Linked DNA regions of Homo sapiens. The protein of the gene in region 1 interacts with the protein of each later gene in a biochemical or structural test. Each region holds a gene or a part of one and is shown in the gene's direction. Other genes may lie near its edges.

Region 1 (3,500 bases):
TGTACTTAAGTAAACAGAATATCAAAAGCAAACAAGATGCAAACTTTTGTTTCAAACTGTTTATTTTTATGTTACTTTTTTCCCTAGGATATCAATTAGAATGACAGAAGGGTAAAAGTTTCTCTTTTATACTGAAAGGCTAGAGAGGATAAAGCATTTGTTTTCAGGTACGCTGGGCACTGAGGTATCTTACTGAAATCTTTGTTCTTTTTGTAGAAGAAGGCTATGTAAAAATGTTTCTTCGTGGACGCCCTGTTACCATGTACATGCCCAAAGATCAAGTGGATTCTTACAGCTTGGAAGCAAAAGTAGAACTTCCAACCAAGAGACTCAAGCTGGAATGGGTGTATCCTTTATTCATTGATTAGGTCTCACATGAAGTTATCAGTCAATCAATGCTTGATGTTAACTGTAGAAATTCATAAAACTTAAGTCCTCTTAAGCTTTTAAAAAACAAAATGTTTTACTGTTACTTTTGAAAACTTAATGTAACAAAATTGACTATATGTTAGAGACCTACAGAGTTCTAACAAAGTAGGAGCTTCATAAGAGCGGCTTATTATCAGGAGAACCAACTTATCATTCCTGAACGAAATAGCTGTGGTTCTGGCTCAAATACATGTTCATTATTTTGCTGAAAAGAAAATATGAAGATGTTATATGATTGTATGAGTGATTTTTTTCTTTGTCAGGAGAAAATGAATCACTAGTTTCTGGTCCGAATTTTATTCTTTCCAAAAGAATGACAATAGTAGTTAGAAATATATAAAGAAGTGAACAGTGAAAATAATCAAGAATGGGTAGAATTTTAGATTCTAATGAGAACTGATTTTTTTTTAAGAGATAGTCTCTCCCTATGTTGCCCCAGCTGTTCTTGAGCTCCTGGACTCAAGCAATCTGCTCGTCTCAGCTTCCCAAAGTGCTGGGATTATAGGCATGAGCCACCATGCCCAGCCAAAAGCCAATTATTTTTAACAGGAGCTATCATATACTTAGTCAACTCTTCAGGGACAGATGGAAAACTAGGCACTCTCTATATTTATAAGGAAACAACAGTGACAATGCAAGAAAATATTGTCCTTATGATTGAGGAAATGGGAGTATCCAAAATTGAAACTAAACCACATTGGCAAAAAAGTTTTTAAACCCAAAGAAAGAGGGGTACTCTGAAAGGAGGACTAGCATTCTCCCCTTAAACCAAGTATGGACTTGGCCAGCCTTAGGAGCCAAACTTCAAGTGTGACCTTGACTGAAGGGATGATAGAAAAATATGAATACCAAAGTACTGAATGAAGGGAGTCAAGTGAATGACGTAAATGAAATTGACATATCACGTAGATATCATCCTACTTTAAAAAAAAAAAAACTAGCTACAGGGATGCATCCCTGTAGTCCCAGCTGTTCAAGAGGCTTAGATGGAAGGATCCAGGAGTTCAAGTCCAGCCTGGGTAACTTGGCAAGTCCCTGTCTCAAAAATACATATATTCATATCAATCAAAAAGGCTCCCCAAAAATCTAGGCCACAAAAATCTGAATCAACCATATAACTAACGTTCTTGAAACAGAGGTGCTGGTAGCTTCATGGCATGAGGTTTGGAAAAGTGAGCTTCCAGGGGAAAAAACAACTGAAAGATAAGAAAATAGAAACTGTGAAAAAGGTGAATTAATTGTTGATTATTTTTCCATTTTCTTATTACTTTAGAGGAATCCTGCAGAGACCACCTTTCAGTCTATGCAGATTTTAAGGGAAAAAAAAAATTTTTTTTCACCTTCAAATATTTGAGTACCTGTTTAATGCCAAGCCTGGAACACAAATTATAAGATGTTGGTTTAAATTTAAGCTATTGTGACTTCATTTAGAATAATTACTATTTGAGATTATGGAATCATATTCCTTAGAAATTTTTTAAAATTACCACCTGTACCTAAATTTCTCCCCCAAAATACTTTTTTTTTTTCCAGATTCAAATGTCATAGGCATTTACCTGCACCTGTTTTGGAATCTATCTTGATACATGAAATTGAAGTGCTTCAGCTCGTCTTTAAGTCAGTAGTGGTTTATTAAACGGTTATATCACATCTGGAAAACATTATTCAAAACATTTATTCAGCCTACTTCCTGTTCATATTTTAGAAGATGTAAAGCAATGAAATTTGCTCTAAATAAATGGCATTTTTTTGGCCATTATTTGGCATCTTGCCGGGTTACTTTTTACATCCAAGTTGAAGTGATATTTTGTTCTCAAAATAAAATAATTTTCAAGGTTTGGAAATATAATGCAAAAATTTTAACAGGGATTCTTATCCCAAAGGATCTGAGGGGCCTGATTTTTTTTTTTTTACCTTTTATGTATGTTTGTGTGCATGTGTGTGTGTCATTTGTACCCTTTGTAAGTACTTTTACCATGTTTAAAAAAGGAATTTTTTAGTAAAAATTTAGCTCGTAGATTACAGTAAAAAAATTAATAATTGACTCAATAGCTTTCTAAAAATAAAACCAAATCATTGTGAAAATATGTATTCACATTACATCAATGACTGTTTCAACTTTACTGCATGCCTTTTGGGGGTCACATGTATTTGTCATGGAATATTTGCAATTTAATGTTGTTTAAATTAGTGATGCTGATGGTAATAGTTATATGGTATTTTATTGCCTGTGCCTGTTGAATAAAGCTGATGTTTTGTCAGCTCTTAAAGGGAAAAAAAATTTTATCTTGACATCCACAAAGCTATGGGTACAGGGGTCGAGACTGCCGTAACAACCTGTACTTGCTTCCGACGGGAGAGACCGTCTACTTCATCGCATCCGTGGTGGTGTTATACAACGTGGAGGAGCAACTGCAGAGGCATTACGCTGGCCACAACGATGACGTGAAGTGGTAAGTCCTGAAACAGGTCATTCCTGCGACTCAGAAGGCGAAGGTAGGAGGATCGCTTGAGGCCAGGAGTTCCAGACCATCCTGGGCAACAGTGAAACCCTGTCTCTAAAATAAATAAATAAATAAATGTGATTCCTGTTGCACAGGTGGAAATAGCATTAGCAGAACACGGTCAGTATTGGGACATAACTAAAGAGAAGGAAGAGGGTCTGAGGAAATGAGGTCTTTGGGAGAGCTCTTCTGTGTGGTCTCCTTGTGGTCCGCTCACTACTGCGCTCCGTGAGACCCCTCTCATGTTTAATTTTCCAGCCTCACCAACGCATGAGCTTCACGGACCACATTGTCTCAACAAACAGCGCCACCTCTTTGGAGGCCTTCTTAACACATCATGTATTAAAGGCTTCTAATTTGGGTCTTTATTTTTTGATAAACATAAAAATGTGTTGCCTCATGTTTGTGGCTGAGTCGGCTCTTCCCATAATTCATTTATAGCTTTTGGTAGGCATATTACATATCTTGGAAGGATGGATGCGTGAAGAGATGGATTTATATATTTGTATTTGTCCTGGTTCCTTGGTCAATGATAAAAATCCTGTTCACGAAAGATGGTATCTTTCC
Region 2 (4,074 bases), on another chromosome or scaffold:
CCAGCAGCAGCCACACGAGCACACTGTGGGGCAGGGAGGGGCATCTCTTGAGAACAAAAGATCCATTTCTCGACTTTCCAAACTGGAGAGCTTCTTGAGAGAAAAGAGAGAGACAGGTACAGGTCCACGCCACCCACACACAGCCCTGTGCACACAGACCGGACACAGGCGTCCACAGGCAAGTTCGCAGCTGCTCATTTTGTGAAGTGAATGCTGATTTGGGGGCCGGGTGGGGTTCGTCTGTACATCGTGCACTGTCAGACCCTTCCTGAAGGATTTTTGTTACTGAAGTATCAGAAGGCCCTTGTTCTAAGGTGGTGGCACTGTAATATCTGGCCCAGGAGGAGGTCAGTGCCGTGCCGGCGAGTCCTTTGCTCCCTTCCTTCTCTGACCAGTAAACGCATCTCCAGTCGCTCCCCCGAGGCCCCCCTGCACGCAGTCTCCGACCTCAGAGAGTGAGTCAGATAGAAGCCGCTGCCCACCCTCCCCCACCCTGGCCGGGTTCTTGCCTGGCTTGTGCGTCCTTGTGACAATTCCTGACACGGATGCGCACCGGGCAGTGGCACGTCCAGGTGCTGTGCGCGCCCGGGCCCACAAAGCTCCTTTGGACGCTCATGGCAGCCCCTTGGTGGAGGAGGTCGGGTGCCCACCCCCTCCCCGCCCACTGCGGAAGCCGGCGACCCACGGAGCTCGCTCTCGGCCGCCGCCACCCCTCTGTGTTCGCGCCCTTCCGAGCTCTGATCCGACGCTTTGTTTCTTCTCAGTGGGTTCAGGGCCTGGGCCAGCCTTTACCTACCTCCCCCACCCAAAACCGGCAAAAGCTCAGAGCACCTTGTCTGCCAAAAGACAGGGAGCTGGGATGGTGCGGGTTGGTCTCTAAACCGGCGTGGGGAAAAAAGACCCTCCGTACAAAGCCGCAGGGTGGGGCTGTCGCAAGGGCGGAACCGAGAGGGTAGCTGGGGGCGGGGTTCCCAGGGCCAAGAGGGGCCATTGTCCTCCCTGGAGCCCGGCGCCCCCACAGCCAGCTCCTCTGGGAGACAGCCCCTCCTTTCGAATGCGCGGGGCCCTCAGACCGCGCCCGGCCCAGCGCTGGGGGATCCTTGGCTGCGGGAGGGGCGCCGCATTGCGCGCGGCGGGCGGGGACGCGCGGTGCGGAGCCTGCGGGCCGGGCGGGGCTCTGCGGCGGCGCCTCCCGATTGGCCACCCGCGGTGACATCAGCCGATGCGAAGGGCGGGGCCGCGGCTATAAGAGCGCGCGGCCGCGGTCCCCGACCCTCAGCAGCCAGCCCGGCCCGCCCGCGCCCGTCCGCAGCCGCCCGCCAGACGCGCCCAGTATGAGGGAGATCGTGCACATCCAGGCCGGCCAGTGCGGCAACCAGATCGGGGCCAAGGTGAGGCTGCGCGCCCCGGCCTGTCCCGGGCCCCGGGGCGGGAGGAGGGAGGCGCCGTGCCCCGCGGGCCGCACCTCCAGCTGCCCCCGCCCCTGCGAACCTGCAACAAAGGGATGCGCCCAGCGCCGCGCCGGGCGGCCGGGACGCGGGGCCCCCGCCCTGGGACTCTCGCCTGCACCTCTCTGCCCCTGCCCAGGTGACCTCGGGCTGTCGAGGCGCAGCTCACGTCAGTCGCGAAGCCTCAGCCCCCTCCACACCTGCGCCCCCTCCACACCTGCACCCCCTCCACCGGGCCTCCGCAGGTGCAGCTGGGAGCCCTGTCTGGGCGTGGCCCTCTTTTTTGGGGCCGCGGCATAGCCTTGAGTGAGACGGGTGGGGTAGGCAGGTTTGGGTGGGGTGGGGGGTTCTCCTCACAGCCGTGATTTCCTCGGCCCGAACCCCCCACTGGAGTAGCCGAACGTCCCCCGAGAGGCTAGAGCCGCCCCGATTTCCCCAGCCTGCTCCGACACCCCTCGGCGTCCTAGCTCCACCCTGTCCCTTTGTTGGAGGGGTTGGGCCTGGACTCGAGATGACCTTGGTCCAGGACCAGGCTCTCCATCGGCGCAGCCGCTCCTGGGCAACCCCCGCGGGGCTTGACCGCGCCCACCCAGGGTCTACCAGTCTGGGGATTGGATGTGGGAACAAAGCCGGGCTGTGGGGTGTGGAGGCTGCACCGTGGCGCGCCCCTCCCTCCATTGTTAGCCCACCTCGCAGATGTTGGGGCCACGCAGAAAGGGGCGTTGGTGCAGCTGTGCAGGGACCCCTGCCTAAATCATTAAGGGGACGTCGTGTCCCCTGGTCCTGGGAGGCTGTCCCTGGCCCAAGGTCACACAGCAGGTGCGAGAGAGCTGGGCTGGCCCTTGGTTCTCATCCCCTGCAGGAGCCAACCTGGGGCTCGGGCGGGGCGGGTTGGGGGCGCTGCTTGCCAAAGGATCTGCCCTCCGAACAGTGTTGGGGAACAGGGGATCGGGGGGGGAGGCTGGCTTTGTCAGGACCAAGGCCAGGGACCCAGCTCAGGGCTGGTGCAGCGCTGATTCTGGGAAGGAGGGGGTGCAGGAGACGGTCCTGGAGGGGAAGGGGCCAGAGAAAGGCAGCCTCCGGAGGCTGTTGCCATGGAAACCAGGCAGGAACAAAAAGCTAATTACAACAGGGCCAGCCACGTGGCTGACATGTAAATTGCAACTTTGGCTCCGGGTGGAGGCGCCTCTGAGGGTGGGAGGCCCAGTAGTGGGGAGACTCTAATCACCCAAGGAGACAGCTGTGCCTGCCAAGGAGAGCCTGGGGGAGGGGAGACCTGGGGGACAGTGGCCTCAAATCAAACCAGGACTCCCGGAGCAGCCTCTGACAGCTGCCTTGGCCTGATGGGAGGGGCTGAGGGCTCATTAATGTGGTCACTGGGGCCAAGCCTCCCCTGAGCATCTGCTCCTGGGAGGGTCAGGGGTCGCTGGGGGGAGGGAGGGCAGGCAGCCCTGGGGCTCCTGGGAGGGTCAGGGGTCTCTGGGGAGAGGGAGGGCAGGCAGCCCTGGGGCCCACCTGGGGTTTCTCCTTCTATGGCTGGGATGGGCCCAGAGCTGTGGTCCCACAAGGCACTTGTCAGGCAAGAGCTGGGATCTAGAAGTCAGGTGCACATGCAGACATCCCCTGAGGCTCCACGGGTAGCAGAGGGAGCCCTTGTCCCCTGGACCGTGTCCTTGGCTGCCTTGTGCTCTGCTTCTGAACACTGGAGCTCTTAGTTTGCCCGCTACTTTTTATTCCTTTTGAGTTGTTTGTTTTTTCTTAATATATTTCTTTTTAAAAATTAATACCTGGCCGGGCACGGTGGATGAGGAATCTCATGTAATCCCAGCACTTTGGGAGACTGAAACTGGAGGATCACTTTAGCGAAGGAGTTCAAGACCAGCCGGGATAACATGGTGAAACTCCGTTTCTTAAAAAAAAAAAAAAAAAAATTAGCCTGGCGTGGTGGGCCGCGCCTGTAGTCCCAGCTACCTGGGAGGCTGAGATGGGAGCATTGCTTCAGCGTGGGAGGTCGAGGCTGCAATGAACTATGACCGCACCACTGTACTCCAGACTAGGCGATAGAGTGAGATCCTGTCTCACAGTAATAATAGTATCTGATTCTTTTTAACAATGAAAGCAACAGAGAAGGAAATTTTCTCGGGGGCGGGGGCGGCAAGAGCGTGTTCCTTTGCTCTGCTGCCCTTGTGGAATCAATGGGAAGTTCCTTGGCCGTTCTCGGCCTCCACTCCCGCAGCTGATAGGGGGTGCAACGCGGCTGCTTCCCTGTCTGGGGTCCTCGGGCGGTGCCTGGCTGGGCAGGAAGGCCCGTGCACTCTGGGCAGAGGGAAGTCGGGGTGACTCGAGGCCGGGAGCAAAGCCGGGTCCCGGGCGGTCACGCGGCAGCGCGGACGACTCACCGCGGTCACCCCTGCGCTGGGAGCCGAGCCCCCGGCAGCTCGCGGGGATGCAGTAAGCCGGGCGCAGCCCGCCGGGAGGATGAGAAAACCCGAAGCCCGGAAAGCCGAGCGGCCGCCTGCAGTCACCCCGGGGGGGGCAGGGGCGGGCCGGGCTATGCAGAAACACCGGGGCCCGCGGGACACAGGACGCTGCCCCACTGCCGCAGAGCTGAATCTGGACCCCCGGG

The links. Proteins that work in one complex are often made in the same cells at the same time.
Region 2: the proteins of EML1 (region 1) and TUBB3 form a complex in vitro, tested with the Homo sapiens proteins (one study listed by BioGRID).

The regions. Positions count from the first base shown.
Region 1 is NC_000014.9:99,894,413-99,897,912, forward strand, and holds part of EML1 (echinoderm microtubule-associated protein-like 1), read left to right. Parts: intron 1-216; coding exon 217-346; intron 347-2,732; coding exon 2,733-2,882; intron 2,883-3,500. UniProt on the Homo sapiens protein: Modulates the assembly and organization of the microtubule cytoskeleton, and probably plays a role in regulating the orientation of the mitotic spindle and the orientation of the plane of cell division.
Region 2 is NC_000016.10:89,922,068-89,926,141, forward strand, and holds the start of TUBB3 (tubulin beta-3 chain), read left to right. Parts: upstream 1-1,274; 5' UTR 1,275-1,334; coding exon 1,335-1,391; intron 1,392-4,074. UniProt on the Homo sapiens protein: Tubulin is the major constituent of microtubules, protein filaments consisting of alpha- and beta-tubulin heterodimers. Microtubules grow by the addition of GTP-tubulin dimers to the microtubule end, where a stabilizing cap forms.